Homo sapiens: one gene and its partner. Each later gene encodes a partner of the first gene's protein in a complex. Each region holds a gene or a part of one and is shown on either strand. Other genes may lie near its edges. The genes, in order: KCNA3 and KCNAB2. A codon is read from its position in the direction of its gene.

Evidence for each region.
Region 2: the proteins of KCNA3 (region 1) and KCNAB2 are in contact, whole or in part, in a cryo-EM structure (PDB 7EJ2), measured with the Homo sapiens proteins. Residues at the interface, in NP_002223.3 of Homo sapiens: Pro133 (codon at 4,818), Met137 (codon at 4,830), Phe140 (codon at 4,839), Pro142 (codon at 4,845), Leu143 (codon at 4,848), Asn145 (codon at 4,854), Tyr147 (codon at 4,860); in NP_001186789.1 of Homo sapiens: Met196, Tyr199, Ser200, Arg203, Glu231, His234, Lys235, Ile236.

Annotation. Positions count from the first base shown.
Region 1 is NC_000001.11:110,671,965-110,679,230, reverse strand, and holds KCNA3 (potassium voltage-gated channel subfamily A member 3), read left to right. Parts: upstream 1-4,290; 5' UTR 4,291-4,421; coding exon 4,422-6,149; 3' UTR 6,150-6,766; downstream 6,767-7,266.
Region 2 is NC_000001.11:6,043,604-6,060,098, forward strand, and holds the start of KCNAB2 (voltage-gated potassium channel subunit beta-2), read left to right. Parts: upstream 1-2,284; 5' UTR 2,285-2,580; intron 2,581-7,907; 5' UTR 7,908-7,933; coding exon 7,934-8,151; intron 8,152-16,495.

The DNA of each region.
Region 1 (7,266 bases):
CATCATCCATGTCCCTGCAAAGGGCATGAACTCATCCTTTTTTATGGCTGCATAGTGTTCCATGGTGTATATGTGCCACATTTTCTTTATCCAGTCTATCATTGATGGGCATTTGGGTTGGTTCCAAATCTTTGCTATCGTAAATAGTGCTGCAATAAACATACATGTGCATGTGTCTTTGTAGTAGAATGATTTATAATCCATTGGGTATATACCCTGTAATGGTATTGCTGGGTCAAATGGTATTTCTGGTTCTAGATCCTTGAGGAATCGCCACACTGTCGTCCACAATGGCTGAACTAATTTGCATTCCATGCTCATGGATAGGAAGAATCAATATCGTGAAAATGGCCATACTGCCCAAAGTAATTTATAGATTCAATGCTATCCCCATCAAGCTACCCCTGACTTTCTTCACAGAATTATAAAAAACTACTTTAAATTTCATATGGAACCAAAAAAGAGCCCATATAGCCAAGACAATACTAAGCAAAAGAACAAAGCTGGAGGCATCACACTACCTGACCTCAAACTATACTACAAGGCTACAGTAACCAAAAGAGCATGGTACTGGTACCAAAACAGATATATAGACCAATGGAACAGAACAGAACAGAGGCCTCAGAAATAACACCACACATCTACAACCATCTGATCTTTGACAAACCTTACAAAAACAAGCAATAAGGAAAGACTCCCCTATTTAATAAATGGGAAAACTGGCTAGCCATATGCAGAAAACTGAAACTGGACCCCTTCCTTATACAGTATACAAAAATTAACTCAAGATGGATTAAAGACTTAAACGTAAAACCTAAAACCATAAAAACCCTAGAAGAAAACCTAGGCAATACCATTTAGGACATAGGCATGGGCAAAGACTGCATGAGTAAAAGCAATGCGAACAAAAGCCAAAATTGACAAATGGGGCCTAATTAAACTAAAGAGCTTCTGCACAGCAAAAGAAACTATCATCAGAGTGAACAGACAACCTACAGAATGGGAGAAAATTTTTGCCATCTATCCATCTGACAAAGGGTTAATATCCAGAATCTACAAGGAACTTAAACAAATTTACAAGAAAAAAACAATCCCATCAAAAAGCGGGTGAAGGATATGAACAGACACTTCTCAAAAGAAGACATTTATGCAGCCAACAAACATGAAAAAAAGCTCACCATCACTGGTCATTAGAGAAATGCAAATCAAAACCACAATGAGATACCATCTCATGCCAGTTAGAATGGCGATCATTAAAAAGTCAGAAAACAACAGATGCTGGAGAGGATGTGGAGAAATAGGAACGCTTTTACACTGTTACTAGGTGCTATTTCTCCATTCATTTATCTGTAATTGTGGATCAGGACCTCTAGCCCTGCCTTGTCCCACTCTCAAACACTTCTGAGCTAATCCTAAATGCTGCTTACCATCTGGCAAACAACTGGTGAACTATTTCTGGGATTGATGTGGTCAGTAGGAAACACAAACTATGCCTAGAGCAACACAGAAAGGCCAAACACCAAGATTTATTTACCCTTGCTGTTTGCAAACCTGACGGTTTTAGTCAGGCTCTAGTATTGCAGACTGAAATATGAGGAAATCCTGCACATGCTCAGAGAAGCTGTTGGCTTTGCCACAGTTCTACGCCTAAACGTTATAATAATATTATTATTATCCCACAGGGGTGTTATGAGGATTAATGAGACATTTTCAAATCACTTTGAGCTACTCTGTTGGGGGTACTAAATAAATGCTATGTTTTCCTCTTGAAATGCCATTTTTGGCATTGATTTGTTGTGATGGGTTCGGCTGTCCAACAGGGCTAGAATGAGCCCACCAACTCATTTTCTATAGACAACAGACGAGCCGTCAGAAGGAGTGGTTTTCAGTTAAGATAAATATGAATTGAAGTGAACTAGTCGGCAATCAGAAGCAAATAGGCTGCTGTTAGAAATCTAGTATATTAAGTACTCACAGTGATCAACACAAGCGTTGCACAGTGTGATACAGTAAAGCAAACACTGGATTTGGAAATGGTCCAAGATTTTAGGCCCAGCTCTGCTGCTAACTAGCTATGTGAGCTTAAGCAAATTGCTAAACTTCTCTGGGCCCCAAATACAAAGTAAGGACTTTATATGTGTCCTAAGAAGCACATAATCAAAGTCTTCCAGACAAGGCAAATACATGAAAGGGAATGGAAATAGTCACTTATGAAGGAAAGACATTTCACAGCTGGGAGAAGCTTGTGACCATTTGTCACAGGACTATCCTCTGCTCTGGTCTTCCTTGCCATTGATTAATATTAATTTCAGTACTAATTCCTGCAAAAGAAGGAATAAATCATTTTCTAAGTCAGACATAGAAGTACATGAAACATCTGGTCTTTAAAAATAGGGTCTTTGCCTTTCCATGAGCTATCATTGCAGCAAGCAGTCTGTCTCATTCTAAGATTTAAATATATGAATGATTGATTATACTGCTACTCTAATCACCAGCTCAAAATATATACGCAAAATAATGAGGTGGCTGTCACATTCCAGTGTTCTGGAGTTTTGTAAGAGAAAGAGTTTTACGTGGTTGCCCAGTTTTGCCATTCCACAACATAAGTGACTGCCTGCATTGTCTGGCACTGACCAGGAGGTGAAACGGAAGATGAAGGGACAATAAAAGGACATGGGTGCCTGTTGTGCCCAGGAGAGCCGGAGGTGGAAATCCTATGGAATAAATGAGCAGTGTTTTCTATGGTGAGCTCAGTTTTTCCTCACTCCTCATCCTAGGAATCACAGCAGCATCTTGGGCTCAAAAAGAAGAAATGTTGAAACTCCAGAGCAGATAGCAACGCAAAGAGACACTCCTTGGGGAATTCAATCTGACAAGTATGTACCAAGTCTCCACCATTTACAAGGCACTTTGGTAGTTGCTAGAAATATAAGTTGGCTAGGACCTACTCTGTGCCCTAGAGAACCCCATGGTTGGGAGTGGTGGTGGGAAGTATTGACCACAAATCACTTACTTAAAATTGAATTGTCAGCTAACTTTGGGTGGGTGAGGAGCTGTCTAGACAATAGTTCCTCTTCTGTAAATGATTTGAATGATACAATAAAAAACAGACTTTTTAAAGCCTAGGGTTGAGTTATATTAGATTGCTAAAATTTCTGGAAACAAATTGTGTTCAAAGTAACCACAATAATTTGGAAAAATAAGTTTAAAGAAGATACATGTAAGTTATCTCTGGGCCCAGATCAAGCAAGAGGTACAAGTTGCAGAATGAATGTCCTTCCAGTTTAACAACTAGAGCGCTGCAAATTCCCTACCACAAGGGCAGTGCCAAAATATTAAGTAAAAAGTCTAGGTACAGGTCCTGCTCTCATCCCTTCCACGACAGGCTTGAGTCATAAAGCTGGACTTTCTAACCACACAACTTCGACTTCGTGAATTTCCTTTCCCATTTTTCCTCTTATTTCCCCGCCAACAGGAAACCTGTGTAGTGGATAAAGACCAGGCTGTCACTGCTAATCCCAATCAGAAACTTGGTCCTTGATTCTTCCCAGTGGCCGACATCTCCGCTGCGAAAACGGGTGTGAACTATTCACTAAAGCAGCAGGGCCCGAACGCCTTTAACAATCCATTTCCTTCGGACTCCGTTTGCGAAGCCCATCAGCACCCATTACTCCCTTTGGCTTCGCATCCTAGCAGAAGCTAAATTGTTTAAACCCCCGCTCCTCCCCAGGGTTTGGCGGTCCTCGACCCTCAAGGGAACCTGGGATGCCGGCGCCAGGCTTGCCTCTGGCCCAGGGCGCCCGCCTGGCCTGCACTCCCTCCCTGGACACTGGGCCCGCCTGCCCTCCCCGGGCTGTACCTAGGGGTGTGGAGGCCAGGGGGCCGGCGCCCGCGGGGCCGCGGCGGGAGCTCTCCCGGCCCACGGGCCGAAAACCCTGGCGACTGGGACGCGGCCAGGCGGGCCGGGGGCGAGGGGCGCTGACCAGAAGCGGGCGGAGCCTAGGGGCCCGGGCCGGCAGCCTGACTCCCCGTGGGCCGGCTCTGCTGGGTGGGCATTCCCGCGGGGCGCCGAGGTACAACATGAGGGCTCTTTCGCTGACACCGAGGGGCCTTGAGGGCTGCAAGAAATGCAGGCCCGGCGGCTGCCCCCGAGAGCGGGACGCGCGCCCGCGCGGTGGGCGGGAATCCTAAGGGGACGCGGAGGCGGGCGCGCGCCCCGCAGGGGAGGGGGCGGAGAGCGCGAGAAGGAGGGAGGAGGCGTCCCCGTGCGGGAGCCCGGCTGACCGCGCCAGACCCAGACAGAGCATCGCGGCTTTGGCTGCAACAGGCGGTGGGCTCGGCTCGGGGGCGGAGGCGGCGAAAGGGCGGGGAGCGCGAGGAGGAGCGACCTGGCCTCACCGCTGCCGCCTCTTCCCCGCCGCATGGACGAGCGCCTCAGCCTTCTGCGCTCGCCGCCGCCGCCCTCAGCCCGCCACCGCGCCCACCCTCCTCAGCGCCCAGCGAGCAGCGGCGGTGCCCACACGCTGGTGAACCACGGCTACGCGGAGCCCGCCGCAGGCCGCGAGCTGCCGCCCGACATGACCGTGGTGCCCGGGGACCACCTGCTGGAGCCGGAGGTGGCCGATGGTGGAGGGGCCCCGCCTCAAGGCGGCTGTGGCGGCGGCGGCTGCGACCGCTACGAGCCGCTGCCGCCCTCACTGCCGGCCGCGGGCGAGCAGGACTGCTGCGGGGAGCGCGTGGTCATCAACATCTCCGGGCTGCGCTTCGAGACGCAGCTGAAGACCCTTTGCCAGTTCCCCGAGACGCTGCTGGGCGACCCCAAGCGGCGCATGAGGTACTTCGACCCGCTCCGCAACGAGTACTTCTTCGACCGCAACCGGCCCAGCTTCGACGCCATCCTCTACTACTATCAGTCCGGGGGCCGCATCCGCCGGCCGGTCAACGTGCCCATCGACATTTTCTCCGAGGAGATCCGCTTCTACCAGCTGGGCGAGGAGGCCATGGAGAAGTTCCGCGAGGACGAGGGCTTCCTGCGGGAGGAGGAGCGGCCCTTGCCCCGCCGCGACTTCCAGCGCCAGGTGTGGCTGCTCTTCGAGTACCCCGAGAGCTCCGGGCCGGCCCGGGGCATCGCCATCGTGTCCGTGCTGGTCATCCTCATCTCCATTGTCATCTTCTGCCTGGAGACGCTGCCGGAGTTCCGCGACGAGAAGGACTACCCCGCCTCGACGTCGCAGGACTCATTCGAAGCAGCCGGCAACAGCACGTCGGGGTCCCGCGCAGGAGCCTCCAGCTTCTCCGATCCCTTCTTCGTGGTGGAGACGCTGTGCATCATCTGGTTCTCCTTCGAACTGCTGGTGCGGTTCTTCGCTTGTCCTAGCAAAGCCACCTTCTCGCGAAACATCATGAACCTGATCGACATTGTGGCCATCATTCCTTATTTTATCACTCTGGGTACCGAGCTGGCCGAACGACAGGGCAATGGACAGCAGGCCATGTCTCTGGCCATCCTGAGGGTCATCCGCCTGGTAAGGGTCTTCCGCATCTTCAAGCTGTCGCGCCACTCCAAGGGGCTGCAGATCCTCGGGCAAACGCTGAAGGCGTCCATGCGGGAGCTGGGATTGCTCATCTTCTTCCTCTTTATTGGGGTCATCCTTTTCTCCAGCGCGGTCTACTTTGCCGAGGCAGACGACCCCACTTCAGGTTTCAGCAGCATCCCGGATGCCTTCTGGTGGGCAGTGGTAACCATGACAACAGTGGGTTACGGCGATATGCACCCAGTGACCATAGGGGGCAAGATTGTGGGATCTCTCTGTGCCATCGCCGGTGTCTTGACCATCGCATTGCCAGTTCCCGTGATTGTTTCCAACTTCAATTACTTCTACCACCGGGAGACAGAAGGGGAAGAGCAATCCCAGTACATGCACGTGGGAAGTTGCCAGCACCTCTCCTCTTCAGCCGAGGAGCTCCGAAAAGCAAGGAGTAACTCGACTCTGAGTAAGTCGGAGTATATGGTGATCGAAGAGGGGGGTATGAACCATAGCGCTTTCCCCCAGACCCCTTTCAAAACGGGCAATTCCACTGCCACCTGCACCACGAACAATAATCCCAACTCTTGTGTCAACATCAAAAAGATATTCACCGATGTTTAATATGTGATACAAGTGACATGCTGTGCTCAGTATTGTGTGGAACGTGCCCCCTTGGTCTGCCTATGCCCTTGTTTTATACATTTCCAGACCATTCATCAAGGAAAGGACCTGAAGAAGTGGAAAGCACACTTCATTCTCCCTCTCCCTGCTGCTTCATACTGAAACAGGTGCCTGTTTTGCAAGTGGGCTGCATTCTCTCAGCTCTCCTTTTCCCTCTTACCCTCTCTCTCTTAACATTGTAAACAACAGACTTACGTTAAACTTCATTTCTAGTACACGCCCTATTTAAAAAAGAGCAGTACATCCTGGGAGGAAATGAAACTAAAGAACAGTTAGAGTAACTGTTTAACCTCAGAATTTTAAAGGCAGTTGTTTCTTTCCTAAGCACATCAATTCGTAGTAAATGATGCTTCGGTTTGATGGACCTTTCAACGTTATTTATTGAATATGTATTTCGGTTGCCTACCCTGTAGATATGTGGATGAAGAGTCTAACTAGAATAATGACTTGTAAACCCACCATGAGTTATTTGGTTTTTGACTTAAATTCCTATTTGAATCCCCTTTCCCGGAATTTTAAGTGTCTCTACAACTTTGAATAAAGGGAAATGCCCAAGATGTCCTGATCTGACTAATTAGTTTAATTCTTTCGGGCTTGCTAAGCATTTCTAAAGCATTAGACTAACAGATTCCTGTGAAGTTCTGTGCATATGTCCCAGCCCCAACAACTATCAAAGTCTAGAAACAGATGTTTTCAGTGTTGCTGAGAGAAACAAAAAATTTCCTAATGCATCTGAGAGATAAGCTTCGGCAGTATCACAAGAAGATTAAAGTGGCAGACACCCCTTCCAGCGGAAGTTACTAATTCGGACCTGACTGATGCAGTTTCCATAGCAACCCATGTTTCCTGGGAAACCCGAAAAAGGTTGTCATGGCATCTCTTGCTCTCTAGCCCCACCTCCCAGCCCCTGCCGTTTCCACAGTAACCTTTCCAGATGGTTCCTACTTAAATGATTTCATAAGGAAAACCACTGTTTGAATAAGCCGCACAAAAAATAAAGTTAAGTCTGAGACTCTAAGGAGGTGAAATGAATCCCAAATGCATTTTTTAACTATGA
Region 2 (16,495 bases), about 100 Mb from region 1:
TAAGGGCTAGGGTCTTTGTTTGTTAACAGGCTGGGGGCCACTCCTAGTAGGGCACCCTCATCACACCAAGCATACCACTAAACATGGCTATTGGATGGTTCTTTCAGTTACTTAGGCCTGGCCCTCTCACAGGGCAGAGGCGTTCAAGGCATGTGCCCTGCCCCCATGCAGCTCCCAGGCAAGGAATTGGCATAGGACACTGTGCCAATCAGCTGTCCACCAAGTGCTGCATAACAAACAACTCCAAAACTCAGTGCCACGCAGCAATCAGCATCTCTTCCTTGCTCCCGTGTCTGCGGGTTGACCAGGCAGCTCGTCTAAGCTGGCTTGGCTGGGTTTGTCTCCAAGCTGCAAGTTGGATCCCCATGTCCTCCATCTTCCCATGCTTAACTGGGGCCTACCCCAGGCATGTCCTTCCCATGGCAAAAGTACCAGAGGAAAAGCAGAAACATGCAGGGTCTCTTACGGCCTATGGTTGGGGTCAGAGCGCTGTCACCTCTGCTCACGTGCTTTTGGCCAAAGTAAGTCTCAGGAACCAGCCCACAGTCAAGGGGCTGGAAATATATTGCCCCCACCAGTGGGAGGAGCTATAAAGTCACATGGCAAAGGGCATGGGTACAGAGAGGGGTGAAGGATTGGGAGCAATACTTCCATGTACCCCAGGTCTCAAATAGCCCTGATGATCTCCAGAAGGCAGAGCACGTCACAGGAGAAGCCCAAAGAGCATTTGGGGTCCAAGGAAGGAGGGGCCACAGCCAGCTGAGAGCCAAGAAGACTTCACGGAGAAGGCAGCAGGGGCTTGGATCTGGTCCTTGAAGGCTGGGCAGGATTCAACGCAGAGGCTGGGAAGCATATTCCAGTAGATACAACAGCCTGAGCCACAGCTCAGAGGTGTGCACAGAGAACAGGAAGTGACAGTTACCCAGCCTGGGCCATCAGGGACATGATGGAGAATAAAGAGAGGCTGGCTGTAGAGGTGGATGTTGGTGGGGGGCCTCGAATGCCTAGCGATGGGGCACAGATGCACTCAGAGGGCACTGGGGAGCCATCTATGGTGTTTGAGCAGGGCAGGGGTCAGAGATCTGCTCTAGGAAGGAAGCCTGGTAGCAGGGAGTAAGACAGGGAAGAGAGAGGCTAATGCAAGGAGACCAGACAGTGCCCAGGAAAGGTGCAGGACGGCTGAGCTCCAGGAACTGCACAGAGAGAGAATGAAGGGGTGCAGGGCCTGAAAAAAGGACGTCAGAAGCCACGTCCACAGGGCTTGGCCACTGATGGGCAGGTGCTGAGACAGAAAGGGACAGAGAGGAGCAGTGGACCCAGGGAAGGAGAGGGCCTCATTCGGAGCATGTTAGGCTGCAGCTACCACCCAGTAGTGAGGCGCAGGCCCCCCGACCAGGGCGACATGTGGGGATCTGACAGAGTGGGCTTGGGCCTTTGGGGACAAACCATTTCAATTGCCAAGGCCTTCGCAGCTAGTCACCCGCAGCCAGGCACCTCCAGACTCTACGTGCTCTCCCAGCCTCCCACTTCATTTACCTTCCACACTGCGACTGGGGCACTGATTTCCTGTCCCCCACCTTCCCCCATGGCAGCTACCACTGTTTGCTCATTCATCATGGGGGGACGGTTCTGCCTCCATTCAAAATCCCACATTCACTGGCGCGCTTTCTCAGCCGGAAGATGATGTCACGCTGGGACTTTGCTGGCATCCTGTGACACGCAGTGACCCTGGGGGTCATGACCCTGGGGTTGGGGCTCAGCACTTAGCCTCATCCCAGAGCTCAGCCTTGTTTGGCCTAGTCTCAAAGCATTTCCCAAACCCCAGGTCAGGACATGTGCCGTGGAGAAGGGCTCCTGTGTCCCTGCCTGGAGTGAGTGGCAGTGTGGAGTCCAAATAGCAGGTTCTGGGGCCTTCCTGCCATTTATAGCTACCGGTAGTATCAGATATACCCATCTCGGGTGTATCCCCAGAGGACAGGAGGAGCATGCGCGTGTGCTGAGCAGAGGCCTCTCCAGACCCCCTTGGCTGTGGGTGGTGGCCCCATACGACGGGGCCCCCAGCTCCCCTGCTGCAGACACAGTTCAGAGTTGAGTGGTATGCGGAAGCCACAGGCTCTGTGTCCCGCACTCAGATACCAAAGAGCAAGGCCTGCCCCTTTCGACCTGTGGGTCCAAAGGTTTGTGTTTCTGGCACGCGGGGATGGTGGAGGCAGCAAGGGTAGGCCTGAGGGACGGGCAGGACCTCCCCCTCACCTTGGGCTGCACCCCAACCCCACGCACCGGGAGTCAGCCTTGCCAGGTTGCAGCACGGAACTGCACTTCCCGAGCTTTTAGGGGAAGAGGCACTCGTGAATAATTCAGCCTCTTTCACTGAGATGAAAACGCCCTAATAGAACTAATGGACTCGCTGCCTCAAAACTCGACTCTGGTGGGACTCATCTCATTCACCAATTGCTTCTGACGTCCTGCAGTGACACTCCCTAATGAAAAAGCCGCTGTGCCAGATCCTTAGAGTGTCTGGTGATCCCTAATAAACCAGACTGTGGCCTTTTTAACGAGCAGACGCCCCCACGAAGGCAGGTGAGTCCTCCCTTCAGCCGCTACCTTCCTAGTGGAGATGCCGCTTGGGGGCACGCATCCGCGGGAATGAAAAATAACAGAGGAGACCATATTTTGGGGTGGTTTTGTCTGATCCGGAATTAGACCCTCCGTGTTTTTGCAAAGCAGAAGACCTTAAAAAAGAGCCAGCCTGAGGTAAACTTGGAATGACCGTGATGGATGGGGTGGTGGGCGGCAGGTTTCAGCCGGGCAGCACCTCTCGCTTGAGTCTGCTCACAGCCCAGACCTGCCCAAGGCTGACTGTTTTCCCATCTGCCGGAGACACGGGCGTCTAGCTCGTACCTCGCTGTGTTCACCATTGATTAAGATTCAGCATTTTCCAGTTTTGCCCAGAGCGCTGTCAGGGAGGTTTGGTCTTGTCTGAAATGTCTGTGCAGGAAGCACGTGCTGAGGGAGCCAGGGGCTGCTTGTTTGGGCCTCAGTTTGCTGATTGTCCTTGAGCGAAAATCATTCTGTGTTTGCACTGAAGCAATGCCGTGTCTTGTAGAGCCGCACCCCGGAATGGTAGCAGCTCCCCTTCCATTTCCGCTTTGGAGAACTCTGGCTGGGCTCTCTGCTCTCTGGACAGGTGTCACCATTCAGAAGAGATGCTCAGGGTTCCTTCTCAATCTCAGGTTGTATGCTTTGTTGGCTTTCAGTAAACAGAACAATTCAGAAATTCCAGGTAGAGGAGTCTGGGGTGAGGTAGTGATTCCTACTGACTTAATGAGGTTAACATCTTCCTTGCATTTTTCCATGTCACGGTGTTAATTCACGTGAATTCCCCTGGGCCCCTGATCTACAGGAATAGATTTGCACCAGGCAGGCCCAGCCCAGGAAAGAACTTGTGGGTTCCACGTAATTAGCAATGGCTATTGAGGAGGGGCTCGTTTTTCTTGGTACCAGGGTGGTGAGGGAGTGTCAGGGCTCAGAGACCCTCACTCTGGAAAGCGGCCGGGATTTGGGATATTTTGAATTGGAAGTCAGGGGTCACTGTGCTCTTGAGCACAGGAGAAGTGGGGACCCTGAGGCAGGAGCCCGGCAGTGGGGCCACTCTCTCCTCCCTGCAGTGTCTTACCGGGGGGCCCTTCGTCCAAGGACCTGACGCTGCTAGAGTCTCGGCAAAAGCCCAGAATAGAGCCCCAGTGTGAGGGAGTCCAGAGGTGTCCTCTGTCCCCAGGCACCGCTGGTAACGGGCAGAGCCTCTTTGCCTTCTGCCTGTACCTATCCTTCTTCCCCTGGGGCAGCCCTCCCAGAGTCATGAGCCTTCAGGACCACAGGGAGCCCCCGCTGTACAGAGTCCTGGCATGGGAGTCCCCCCCACACAAGAGAGGGTGACCTGCAAAGAGCTGCTGGGTCTGAGGTAGGAAGCCAGCCCCGCCCCCACCAACAGCTGCCTGGCACTGCCAGGAAATGCCCAGGTATAGCCCTGGTTGGCCTTTTGGAGCCTGGGCCTTGGTTACTGTTCTACAAATATCTGAGCCCCTCCTCTGTGCACGGGACACTCCCGTGGGCACTGGTCAGGGGGCAGTGGCAGCAGGCAGAAGAGTCCTTGCCCTCCTGGACCCAACCTTCAGGGGAGTCCAGCGGCCATGGGCTCCTCATGGCACCAGCCCTGCTCCTCACCCCACCACCCCATGCCAAAGGCTGCCATTTCTGTGCCCGCAAGTTCCCTGGCCCAAGCCCTGCCCTGGCACCATGGGGACAAGCTCGTAGCAAGAGGCTCTGGGCTCCCTCCGTGCCGCAGGGCTCCCACCTGCAGGTCTGCTCCCAGGGCTGCAACATGAGCTCTAAGGAAAGATTGCAAGCGGGCCCCCACAGGGAGGGACGCCCTCTAAATCCTGGCCACAAAACCCATTCTGTCCTGCCCTCTCTCCCCTCTCCCACTCACATCCCCAAACTCAGCCTTCCACCATCTTGTTGTGAAGGGGGCGATTATTCACATCTGTGTTCTCTTCCCTTAAGCATTTTCTAGGGAGATTTGGTGTCTGTGTGGCTCACTCCTCTCACTCAAACCTGTGGTCACAAGTTCCTTCCCGCCCTGCCTGCTGGCCCCTGGTGGTGGATTTTTCTTTCCACAGCATTTATCATAATTGGTGTCTTATCCCACGCCCCCCAACAGACTGTCTTCTGGCTGCGTCACCAACTCCCACCCAGTTGTCCAAAGCCTCATCTCATGCAGCCCACAGCAGCCTGGTACAACAGGCCTCTGCCCAGCCTACCTCACAGATGTGGAGGCTGAGGCCGGGAGCGGTCAAGGTGCCTGCCTGGGCCACACCATGAGCAGGTGACAAGCAGAGCTGCCCCTGTCCAGAAGCTGGGCACTCAGCCACCCCGTCCTCCAGCCCCGGGGCCTTGGCTATATTTCTAGAGCCAAACCAGACCCGGATTGCTTTTTGTGAGTAATGTCTTGAAAGCTAATGGCTATTGATCTCAGCCTGGTCGGGCCAGGCAGGGAACTTGCGTGTCTGAGGCTGGTCCTGCCTTTCAGAAAGAGCCCTGGGGCTACAGCCTGCCCAGCTGGCCTTCTTTCTAAACACAGACCTCAGGGAAGTGAGGGTTGGCCCCCATTTGCCCCACACCGGACTGGCAGCTAGCCACATGGCCACCTCAGAAGCAGCTGCCTGCCACGCGCATGGAGGGAAGGGAGTGGCCGGCCAGTAGGCAGGGAAGGGAAGCTGGTGCTGCTGTCTGTGGGTGCCAAGGGCCTCATTTCCTAAGGTGAACCTCTCCTGGAGTCCGGGCCTCTCTGCCCTCCAGAGCGATTCTCCTGGAAGGCAGACGGCTTTCCATGCCAGGGTACCCGCCTGCTTTAGCGTCCAGAGGTCCAGCAGCCACCACCCCTCCCAGCATAGAAATGAGCAGTGGTGAATGCAACTCCTGGCATGGGAACCCCCCAGCAAGAGAGGACGACCTGCAAAGAGCCACTGGGCCTGAGGCAGGAAGCCAGCCCCGCCCCCACCAACAGCTGCCTGGCACTGCCAGGAAATGCCCAGGTATAGCCCTGGTTGGCCTTTTGGAGCCTGGGCCTTGGTTGCTGTTCTACAAGTATCTGAGTCCCTCCTCTGTACACGAGGGGCACTCCCATGGGCACTGAGCAGGGGGCAGTGGCAGTGGCAGGAGGCAGAAGGGTCCCTGCCCTCCTGGACTCAACCTTCAGGGGAGTGAATTCAGCACACAGGACAGCTAGAAAGGAATCAGCAAGGTGGATGATGGCGAGCGCCATGGAGACAGATCACAGCAGGAAAGAGGCACATGGTGTGGTTTGTGTGGGACAGAGGGTAGGATGGGAAACGCAGCCCCCCCACCCCCGGGAGCCATGCCCATCAGACAGAGGTGCAGAGGTGCAGACAGCACAGCAGGCTCCCCAAGGACGACTGGTTGCTCGCCTTTAGGGAGGGGGCCATCCAGCCCTGACCAGGGTGGTGGGGCCAAGGCCTGTGTGGACACTGCTACCCAGCTCCCTGTAGGGGCTCCTCGGGGGCTCCTTGCCTGCTGGTCTCTCTTTAGCTCTTCTCTGAGCCCACCTTCCCTACCTCAATTGCATGTTCATGCAACAGGCATTTGTAGGCTCTGCTCTGAGCTAGGCCTCATGCTGGGCACAACAGGGCAGACATGAATGAAGGTCCCTGCAAATAAGATACAGACGAATACTTGCAGGGAAACCCCCATGAAAGAGGCAGCTGTGGGGCTCCTGGAGGTGGCCCCCCTCTCTGGGTGCACATATAGGCAGAGCAGTGAAAGGTCAGCAGGCTGGTCACCCATTCTGGAAGGACCCCAGCACATGGGGCTCATCACAAACTCCTGCCCCTTGTGGGTCTTTCCTTTGGCCCCTGGAGCTCACCCCAGGAAAGGCCCAGCCTGGGGCAACTCCAGGACATCTCAACCCCCTTCAAGGACCGTGCTAAAGCCTCTGTAGCTGCCTCAGCTCCCAGGATAGCCCTCCCAGCTCCTTCCCAGGGATAATCGAACTTTTCCTCTCTTGGGGCAGAAGGTGGGGACAGTGCTGGTTCCTTTCCAGCTCCCAGGCCAGGTTCCAGGATCCCACTGTGCAGCTGACCCAGCTGAAATGGTGACTTCCCCTCTGCACCTTCTCTCTCTGGTGATGATGCAGAGCTGCAGTGCAGGCCACCTGGGCCATGGCCGAGGCTGCAGTCAGGTGGGGTGAGGGTCACTGGACTGGGGACCTCCTTTGTGTTGAGCCTGCCTCCATGTCCTCATTGCGCTGTCACAGACTCTGCAGGGTGAGGACTCAGCCCCGAGGCTGCCCTCACTGGTCCACTCACTGTTGTGCACATGAATTAACACCAGTGGTTGCGTTCTGGACACACGCTTTCTCCCTTGGCCTTTTAATTGTCCACTATCTCTCAGGGCTCACTCACTCACTATGTTGAGATGCCTCATTCTTGACAGCAGCACAAATTCCCACTATGTGGATGGACTGTCACTTAGGTAACCAGTTTCCCTACTGATGGACATTTACATTGCTTTTAGTTTCCAAGAATGTGCATTCATCATTTCAGCTATATTTCAGTGGTTCTTCACATAGAAACTTTGAAACTCCCCTGTCCCAACTAAGCCTATTTCCCCAGGCCACTCTCCTCCGCAACCTGCTTAAATGCATTCTGCTCAGTTTTTCTTTTGCAAAAAGCATGAAGCCCAAAGATCTCTGCGGTGCAATGATGCGTTCAACAAGCAGGGAATGTGTTGTATAGATAGCATTTCCCTTTACAAGGCTAAGAGCAAATAGGACCTTCCCATGTTGGGGCCACCTGGCATGCGGGGGTGAGGTGCCTCCCTGGCATAATTACAGGAGAGTTTACTTCAGCAACAGGTGTGCCCTGCGCTGCTTTCCCAGGGACAGCTTTTGACCCAGTTTTACCCTGGGAACCACCTCAAGAGACCACCATGACATGGTACCGCAGTCACCACGGAACAGCAACCCTGGTCTTCAGCATTTGGGGGGCTCAGGCTCTGCATGCTCTCTGTGCTCCCGTTTTCATTTGGACACTTGGGGTGCAGCTGTCCTGCCTGGAATGCAGCTTTGCCTGTGCTTGTCTCACAGATGCAGGGGACAGAAAAGGGCAGCTTAGCCAGAGTTCCTGGCAAGCACTGCTTTGCGGACTGAGAATCTCATGCCAAGAGGTGTTTACATCCAGGGGCCGGGTCCCACTCCTAGACACCAAGACCTGGTGGTGGCACTAGTTAAAGGATGTTTCGCTGCAGCTGCCCCCTGCCCCAGGGCCAGCCATCCAGCCTGGGGCACGTGGGGCATTGGCACACTGTCTAACTCATCACCGTCTGGACAGTGGCAGCTCCCAAGCCAGGCGGCACCATGCTGTCCATGACGTACAGCGAGAGTCTGCGGAGCGTGAGCAGCAGGTGCCACTCTGAATGGGCCCTGCACCCCGTCCGCCAGACGGACACGCTGGAACTGCAGCGGCTGCGGGAGGTGCGGGCGGCTGCCCAGGCCAGGAACATGGAGAGCTTCCTCCGCATGCACGGCCTTTCCCTGGACGGCTGCACCGCCCAGCGCACAGGCATGAAGTATCGGTAAGGGCCGGGCAGGGGGGCGGTGGGGTGGGAAGTCTGATTTCAGCCATATAAATATGTATAAAAGGGCTGGGCACGGTGGTTCACACCTGTAATCCCAGCACTTGGGGAGGCAGAGGCGGGTGGATCACCTGAGATCAGGAGCTCGAGACCAGCCTGGCCAACCTGGTGAAACACCACCTACTAAAAATACAAAAAATAGCCAGGCATAGTGGGGCGCACCTGTAGTCCCAACTACTCAGGAGGCTGAGGCAGAAGAATTGCTTGAACTCAGGAGGCAGAGATTGCAGTGATCCAAGATCATACCACTGCACTCCAGCCTGGGCGACAAGAGTGAGACACTGTCTCAACAACAACAACAAAAATGTATAAAGGAAGAAAATGAGGCCAGGCACGGTGGCTCATGCCTGTAATACCAGCACTTTGGGAGGCCGAGGTGGGTGGATTGCTTGAGCCCAGAAGTCTGAGACCAGCCTAGGCAACATGGCAAAACCCCATCTCTACCCCAAAATACAAAGAAATTAGGTAGGCATGGTGCCATGCACCTGTAGTCCCAGCTACTTGGGAGGCTGAGGTGGGAGGATTACCTGAGCCCAAAGAATCTGATGCTGCAGTGAGCCGTGATCGCACCACTGCACTCCAGGCTGGGTGACAGAGCGAGACTCCATTGCGCAAAAAAAAAAAAAAAGTTTAGTAAATTCTCCATGGGGTAAAAATGTGTGGGTGTGTTTCTCCATGGGGAAAAATGTGTTTCTGGGTGTTGGAGACCCCTGCTCTTAATGATAGGCACGTAGGTCTGAATTTTCTTGGAACCTCCAAAGGACATTCTTTTTAGTGCGCTTGTCTTTGAATTCAGCACCTCGGACAGCGCTCTGCTAGCCACCGTTCTCTGGCTGGTGTAAATCCCTCTCAATTGCAAATTGACAGCTTTATCTTCTGTGCCTCTCAGGAACATGCCCTTGTGAGAGCCATTCAGCCAAAGAGGACCCTCCCCACCCAGTCCTTGTAGAGTTGCCAGTTAAATTTGAAGTTCAGATAAACGCGTAACTTTTTAGCATAAATACGTTCCATGCAATATTTGGGTCATACTTATACTAAAAAGTTCCTCATTGTTTATCTGAACTTCAAATTTAACTGGGCGTCCTGTGTTTTATCTGGCAACACTAAATATCTGGCTTCCGTCTGAGACAGACCCTAGGGATCATCTGCGTGCTCTGTGCAGAGTGGAGTGCAGGCCAGGACCGCTCCTTTAACGTTTTCTCCTGTGGACGGCGTGTTTGGTCCTTCAGCCCATTGTTTGAATATGTGGTTGTAATTTAGAAACAAAACACTTCTCCTGTGAGTCCATTAGATGGCAGTGTTTTTCAGGCTTTGTATCCTAAATCCAGCTGTAAAGGAAGGACAAAGGGTCCGCTAGTTTGGCCACAGCTGACCTCCTTGTTCTGCTGGAAATTTCTCAAGAAGGAGACGCTGGGCATTCATGAGGGGCTGGTCATTGATTCCTTTTGTTTATTCAGTAAATGTTTATTGAGAGTCTGCTTGGCACCAGGCGCTGAGCCAGATCCTGGAGCTGCTGCATGAACAAGAGCAACCAGGTCCCCAACCTCACGGCAGCCATGGCCTGGGGGTGTGGGGGGCAGAGAAGCAGCGAGCTTGCACGGAGACAAGTTCCAACAGCGACCACTGGCCGAGGCAGCAAAGCAGGACAATGCAATGAAGAAAGACCAGGGAGGCCGAGGGGGAACCCTCTGAGAGAGGGATCATCTGAAGATGTGGAGAACATTCCAGCCCAAGAGGAGAGGGGTCTGGAATGGATGCCTCTCTCAGCTGGAGGAGCGAAGAGAAGGCCCAGGCGGCTAGGCTGGAGGGAGGAAGGTGGAGGACACAAGGCGATGATGCAGGAGGGGCCAGACCCCATCCTCCAAACTCAGGGAAACCTCAGCTCTCTCCTATGTGGACAGGATTTGTGATGGAGGATAGTTTAGTGGGTTAAATCAAGACCCCCCAAAATTCACATTCATCCTAAACCTCAGAATATGACGTTAGGCTGGGTGTGGTGGCTCACGCCCGTAGTCTCAGCACTTTAGGAGGCAGCCTGGGTAACATGGCGAAACCCCATCTCTAAATACAATCAAAAAATTAGCCAGGCATGGTGACACATGCCTGTGGTCCCAGCTACACAGGCGGCTGATGCAGGAGGATCACTTGAACCCAGGATTTCAACGCTGCAGTGAGCCCTATTTGTGCCACTGCACTCCAGCCTGGGCGGCAGAGTGAGACCCTGTCTTAAAAAAAAAAAAAAAAGAAGAAGAAGAAGAATGTGACATTATTTGGAAATAGGGTCATTGCAGATATCATTAAGATGGGGCAATGGGGCCATACAAGACTAGAATGGACCCTAATTCCTACGACTGGTGTCCTTATAAGAAGGCCATGTGGTGATAGAGAGTGGAGTGACGGGTCCACAACCCAAGGGACTCTGAGGAGTCTCGGTGTTACCGGTGGAGGGTGTGCAGCCAGGTTCCTGGCATCTTGAACAAAGAATTGGACAAAACGCACATACAAAGCAAGGAAAGAATGAAGCAACAAAAGCAGCCGGGTGAGGTGGCTCACGCCTGTAATCCCAACAGTTTGGGAGGCCAAGACGGGTGGGTTACATGAGGCCAGGAGTTCGAGAGCAGCCTGGGCAACATGGCAAAAGCCTGTCTCTACTAAAAATACAAAAATTAACCAGTCGTGGTGGCGGGCACCTGTAGTCCCAGCTATTCGGGAGGCTGAGGCAGGAGAATCACTTGAACCTGGGAGGCGGAGGTTGCAGTGAGCCAAGATGGAACAAAAGTACACTCCACAGGATGGGAGTGGGCAAGCGGCTCAAGAACCTGGATACAGAATTTTCTGGGGTTTAAATACCTTCTAGAGGTTTCCCATTGGTTACCTGGTGTACATCTTATGTAAATGAAGTAGTGGCCTGTGATCATTCTGATTGGTTGCAGAAAGTGACCAATTAGAGGCTGAAATGAAGTTACAAAGTTACACTTCTATGCAAATGAAGACTTGGCCCACAGCCAGCCTGATTGGTTGCGGGAGGGGACAAATCAGAGGTATTTTCCATTTTTCGTCTGCCACACAGAAAAGGGGGCGCCATGCAAAGAGAGTAGCCTCTGGTTCTTTTGTTACTTGGGCGTGGAAAGTTGGGGTTTTCCTTTTGACTTAGTTATAGGAAATCAGCGGGAATTGGCCTTCAGTTCCCTGCCTCCAGACCCTGGTCTCCTGCCCCAACAGGAGCCACGAGATGCTGGAAGGGACAGGAAAGGACACCTCATGAGGGTGTTTGGAGGGAACACTGCCCACACCTGGACTTCAGACTCCAGAAGTGGGAGAGAAGACATTCCTGTTGTTGTAAGTCCTCTAATTTGGGGATCTTTGTAATGGCAGCCGCAGGGAACTAACACAGGTGGAGAGAACATATCTTTTATTTGCCTGAAGCCCCGAGGAAAATGCCTGAGCAGCCTCGGAGACACTGCAGGTCCCACTGTGGGGCTGAAACGCCCTTGGGGATCTCGCTTCTCAGGGAGTGGAGGAGACCAGAAGACAAACGCTTTTTTTTTTTTTTTTTTTTGAGTTGGAGTTTCGCTGTATCGCCCAGGCTACAGTGCAGTGGCACAGTCTCGGCTCACTACAACCTCTGCCTCCCAGGTTCAAGCGATTCTCCTGCCTCAGCCTCCCAAGTAGCTGGGACTGCAGGGATGCACCACCATGCCTGACTAATTTTTGTATTTTTGGTAGAGACAGAGTTTTGTCATGTTGACCACGCTGGTCTCAAACTCCTGACCTCAGGTGATCTGCCCACCTTGGCATCCCAAAGTGCTGGGATTACAGGCATGAGCCATCTCACCCCACCAACAAAGTCCCTTTAGCAGTTGATGGGCCAGAGGTTGTTGTTACACCCAGGTCAGGGTGAAGGTGGGGCGGGGAGGGTGGTGGCCTCACTCTATCTGGTGAATTTCATTTTGCTGCACCAGGGTTGACGGGGTGGGTGGGATGCTCCGTGACTCAGACCACCAGTTATTAAAGATCCCAGATAAATTTATTCTGTGCTTACCTCTTCTCCGTCAGCGACTGGGCTGGGTCACCATTAAACTTGGTCTTAAATATGAATATAGAAAAGATGATACCTGGGGATAGGCACTGCCCGGTGCCGCAAGAAACCAGCTGTGCCCCTGGCCTGGGCATTTCATCAGCTGAACTGAGCTGTAGCTGATGGAGGTGGACGGCAGCATGCCTGTTACACTTCCCCAGTTTTTTTTTGAGACAGAGTCTCACTCTGTCACCCAGGCTGGAGTGCAGTGGTGCAATCTCAGCTCACTGCAACCTCTGCCTCCTGGGTTCAAGCGATTCTCCTGCCTCAGCCTCCCGAGTAGCTGGGACTACAGGCGCGAGCCACCATGCCCGGCTATTTTTTGTATTTTTAGTAGAAACGGGGTTTCACCACGTTGGCCAGGCTGATCTCAAACTCCTGACCTCAAGTGACCCACTCGCCTCGGCCTCCCAAAGTGCTGGGATTACAGGCGTGAGCCACCGCGCCCGGCCTACACTTCCCCATTGTTTAAACTGTCCTCAATTATTGCTGTTAAAAAGAATTTTAAGATGAATTTTTAAATCCACACAGCCCCTGTGTAAGCATGAGGGAGCAGGGTGAGGGCAGCTGGCCTAGCACACACTTCCCCTCCCCTGTGGACGTTAGGGTTCAGAGATGTGGCCTCAGAATGGCAGGCCAGAAGCTGTGGCCGGGCCCACACTGTGCTGACTGGACACCAGCCCTCAGTTCAGCTGTGTTTTCCTCTGCTCCCCATGGTGCTGGGAGTGAACCCAAACTCCCCGCAAGGCTCTACGTGGCCCTAGCCTGCCTCCTTGGTTTCAACTCGGACCCCTCTCCCTCCCGCTCAGGAGGCTCTGGACGCCGCCCCTTCCTTCTGTATCCCCAAAGGGGAACTCATTCCATCCACAGGGTCATCGCACTTTCTGTTCCCTCTTCCTGGAGGCTGCCTCCCCAGACGTGGCCTGGTTCCTTCCCATTGTCACATCTAAGCTTGGTCCCCAAAGAGACTGTCCCAAGCACCCACTCTAAACAAGCACCTATGAAGTCATCAGAAGCCCCTCTCCTGAGTGAGTGTCTTCCTCACCCCTCCTCCATCTCGGTTGCCTTGCTCTTTGCCCATCTGCACTGCTTTGAGATCAGAGCTTTGTCTGTCCCTGGCACCCGGAACACCCCCAGCCTCTGTGAGTTTAGGTCGGAAGGCGCTGCGTGGTCTTGGTCTTAATCTACTTTCCAAAGCACATGTCTCGTTCGGGCTGCATCCTAGATGGTGGGAAGACAGGACTGACTGGAAGCTGGTCTGAGGCTCTCTCTGCAGTCCAGATGTGGATGGCAGGGAGCCTCTGCGGTCCTTGGGCACTGACCCTTGGTCATGAACTCCTGGCAGGGCAGGAGTCCTGATTTCCTGTGCTTTCTGACTCTAGATCCCAGGCTCTTACCACAAGCTCAGGTTCACCAGGAAGTACTTGGTTGGTTGCCAGGTTCATTGAGCAGACTGTAGTTGCTCAGTTAACCATAGGCCATCACTTCCAGCTGGGAAGAGCTGGGAATCCAGGTGTGTCTTAAAGGACAGGCGGGAAGGAGGGCACTGAGGGCAGGAGGAGGGGAAGGAGAAAAACAGCAGAGACCAGGGGGGATGGCAAGTTAACCTGTCTACAAGGCCAAGTGCATCCTGGGAAAGAGGGGTCCCCAAGGAACGGGGTCCATCTTGGGAAAGATCCTGTTTTACTTTCCTGAGGCTGCTGTAACAAGCTGGGTGGTTTACAACAGAAGCTTTTTCTTTCCCAGTTCTGGGAGGTGAAAGTCCAACGGCCAGGTGCAGCCGGGCCATACTTCCTCCGAAGGCCCCAGGGAGGGTCCTTTTTGCCTCCCCCAGTTTCTGGTGGTGCCGGCAGGCCTGGGCATTCCTCAGCTTGTGGCCACATCGCTCCAACCTCTGCCTCTGCCGTCCCATGGCCATTTTCTCTCTGTGGGCCTCTGTCTCCAAATCTCTCTCTCCTTATAAGAACACCAGTCATGGCCAGGCACAGTGGCTCATGCTTATAATCCCAGCATCTTGGGAGGCTGAGGCAAGTGGATCACTTGAGTCCAGGGGTTCAAGACCAGCCTGAGCAATGTGGCAAAACTCTGTCTCTACAAAAAATGCAAAAAATGGCCAGGCATGGTGGCAAGTGCCTATGATCCCAGCTATTCCTGAGGCTGAAGTGAGGATCACTGAGCCCAGGAGGCAGAGTCTGCAGTGAGCCGAGATCGAACCACTGGCACTCCAGCCTGGGTGACAGAACAAGACCCTGCCTCAAAAACAAAAAGCAAAAAACAAAAACCCAGTCATTGGATTGAAGGCTGACCCTAATCCAGGACCATCGCATCTTAACTTGATTACATTTGCAAAGACCTTGTTTCCAAATAAAGTCACACTCACAGGTATCAGGAATTAGGATCTCAACTGTCTTTTGGGGACACATTTCGACCTGCCACAGGCCCCAAGGATTGACTCAACACCTTGAGCCTGCGGGGACATCCCTGAGTGTCCTGGGAGGAACCCGGGCTCCCACCGGCTACCTGTGTGACCTCAGACAAGTCCCCTGGCCTCTCCATGACTCGATTTCCTTACCCGGAAAGTGGAGACCGGGGTCACTACAGCAGAATTGTCCTGAGGACTAAATAAGCTCCAGGTGACATAACTCAAAGCTCCAGGCTTGGCTCATTGTGGGAGAGAAATGCAGGCCCTTCCCGTCCCTGGAAAAGGGACCTTCCCACACAGCAGTCGCTGTCCAGGCACCTGGACTGTCCCCTGTCTATCCATCTTGGGGTCTCACTCGTGCACCTAGTCTCACTTAGAGATGTAGTTCAGTGCCGCGCAGACAAGGGGCGGAGGCATCAGGAAGGAACAGGAGGAGGGAGGGAGGCGAGCAGCCAGTCATTCCGGAAGAGCTGCCGGGCCAGACGCAGGGGCTGGGAGAAAGCCAGCTGGCAGGCCCAGTGCTCTCCTTGAGGGCCTGCCCAGGACCACGGCTGGCAGCTGTGTGGGGCTTGGGTCGGGGCTGGGAGGGCTTCTGCTGGCAGCGGGCACCACATTGGAGCCTCGGTGGTCATGGTCATCCCAGGCCTGGAAACAGCATCCGTCTGCAGCCCCAGCCTCTCCAGCCCCAGCTTCCCTAAAGGGACAGAACAGCCCTTCCCTCCCCCACAGGGCTGCTGCAGGAGAGGTGGGAGGAAAGGCAGAGAGACCCAGACTCCTGCACTGGGTGGTTGCCTTGTAACCGACTGATGATGTGCTAGGTGTTTCTGGAGCTGACCTGGCCACAGGAATCACGGGCCATACCTGTTTTTCCTGTTTTTTGTTGTTTTTTGTGTTGAGACAGCGCCTTGCTCTGTCGCCCAGGCTGGAGTGCAGTGGTGCAATCATAGCTCACTGCAGCCTCAGCCTCCTGGGCTCAAGTAATCCTCCAGCCTCAGCCTCCCTAGTAGCTGGGACCACAGGTGCGCACCACCACACCTGGCTAATTTTTGTGCTTTTTGTAGAGATGAGTCTCACTAGGTTCCCCAGGCTAGCTGGGAACCCCTGGGCTCAAGCGATCCACCCACCTTGGCCTCCCAAAGTGCTGAGATTATAGGCATGAGCCACTGTGCCCAGCCACACCTGTTACACTACCGATCCCCAGGCCCCTTCCTGGAGGTTTGGGGCATCTTCCCCTGGAGGCTCTTCGGACAAGCAAGGAGAGGGAGCACCACCCATGTGCTGGCGCCGTGGTCATTGTTGTTGGTCTTGTTACGTCTCAAAGGGTGCTTCTGAGGACAGAAGGAGGAAGAGAAAGAGAGGTGCTCGCTTGGGGCTGGAGAGTTGCATGGGAAACAGCAGCAACTCAGAGCAGAGCCGGCCATCTCACAGCCGCGGGCCTCTCTCCCCTTTCTGGGCTCCTAGAGTTGGAAGTGAGTGGGGCCATGAGGTCCTGGTGAGCAAGAGGAAGGAGGAGGAACTGGCTTTGCAGACCGTGCAAAGCCGGTTCCCGGGAAGCACACACATGGCCTGCAGGAGGCCTTGTCCTAGCATCACCTGCAGCTTCAAGCACAGTCCACTCAGCCCAACCACAGAATGGGCCCCGCCAGTGGGATGTGCGCTCTGGGCAAGGCTCACATGTCCTGTCATCGGTCCTGTGGCCTCCTCCTTCCCTCGGCCTCCCACTGTCCCTCCGTGTCAAGTCTCCCACCATCTGATGCGCCCTCTGGCAAGGCCAGTGAGTCACC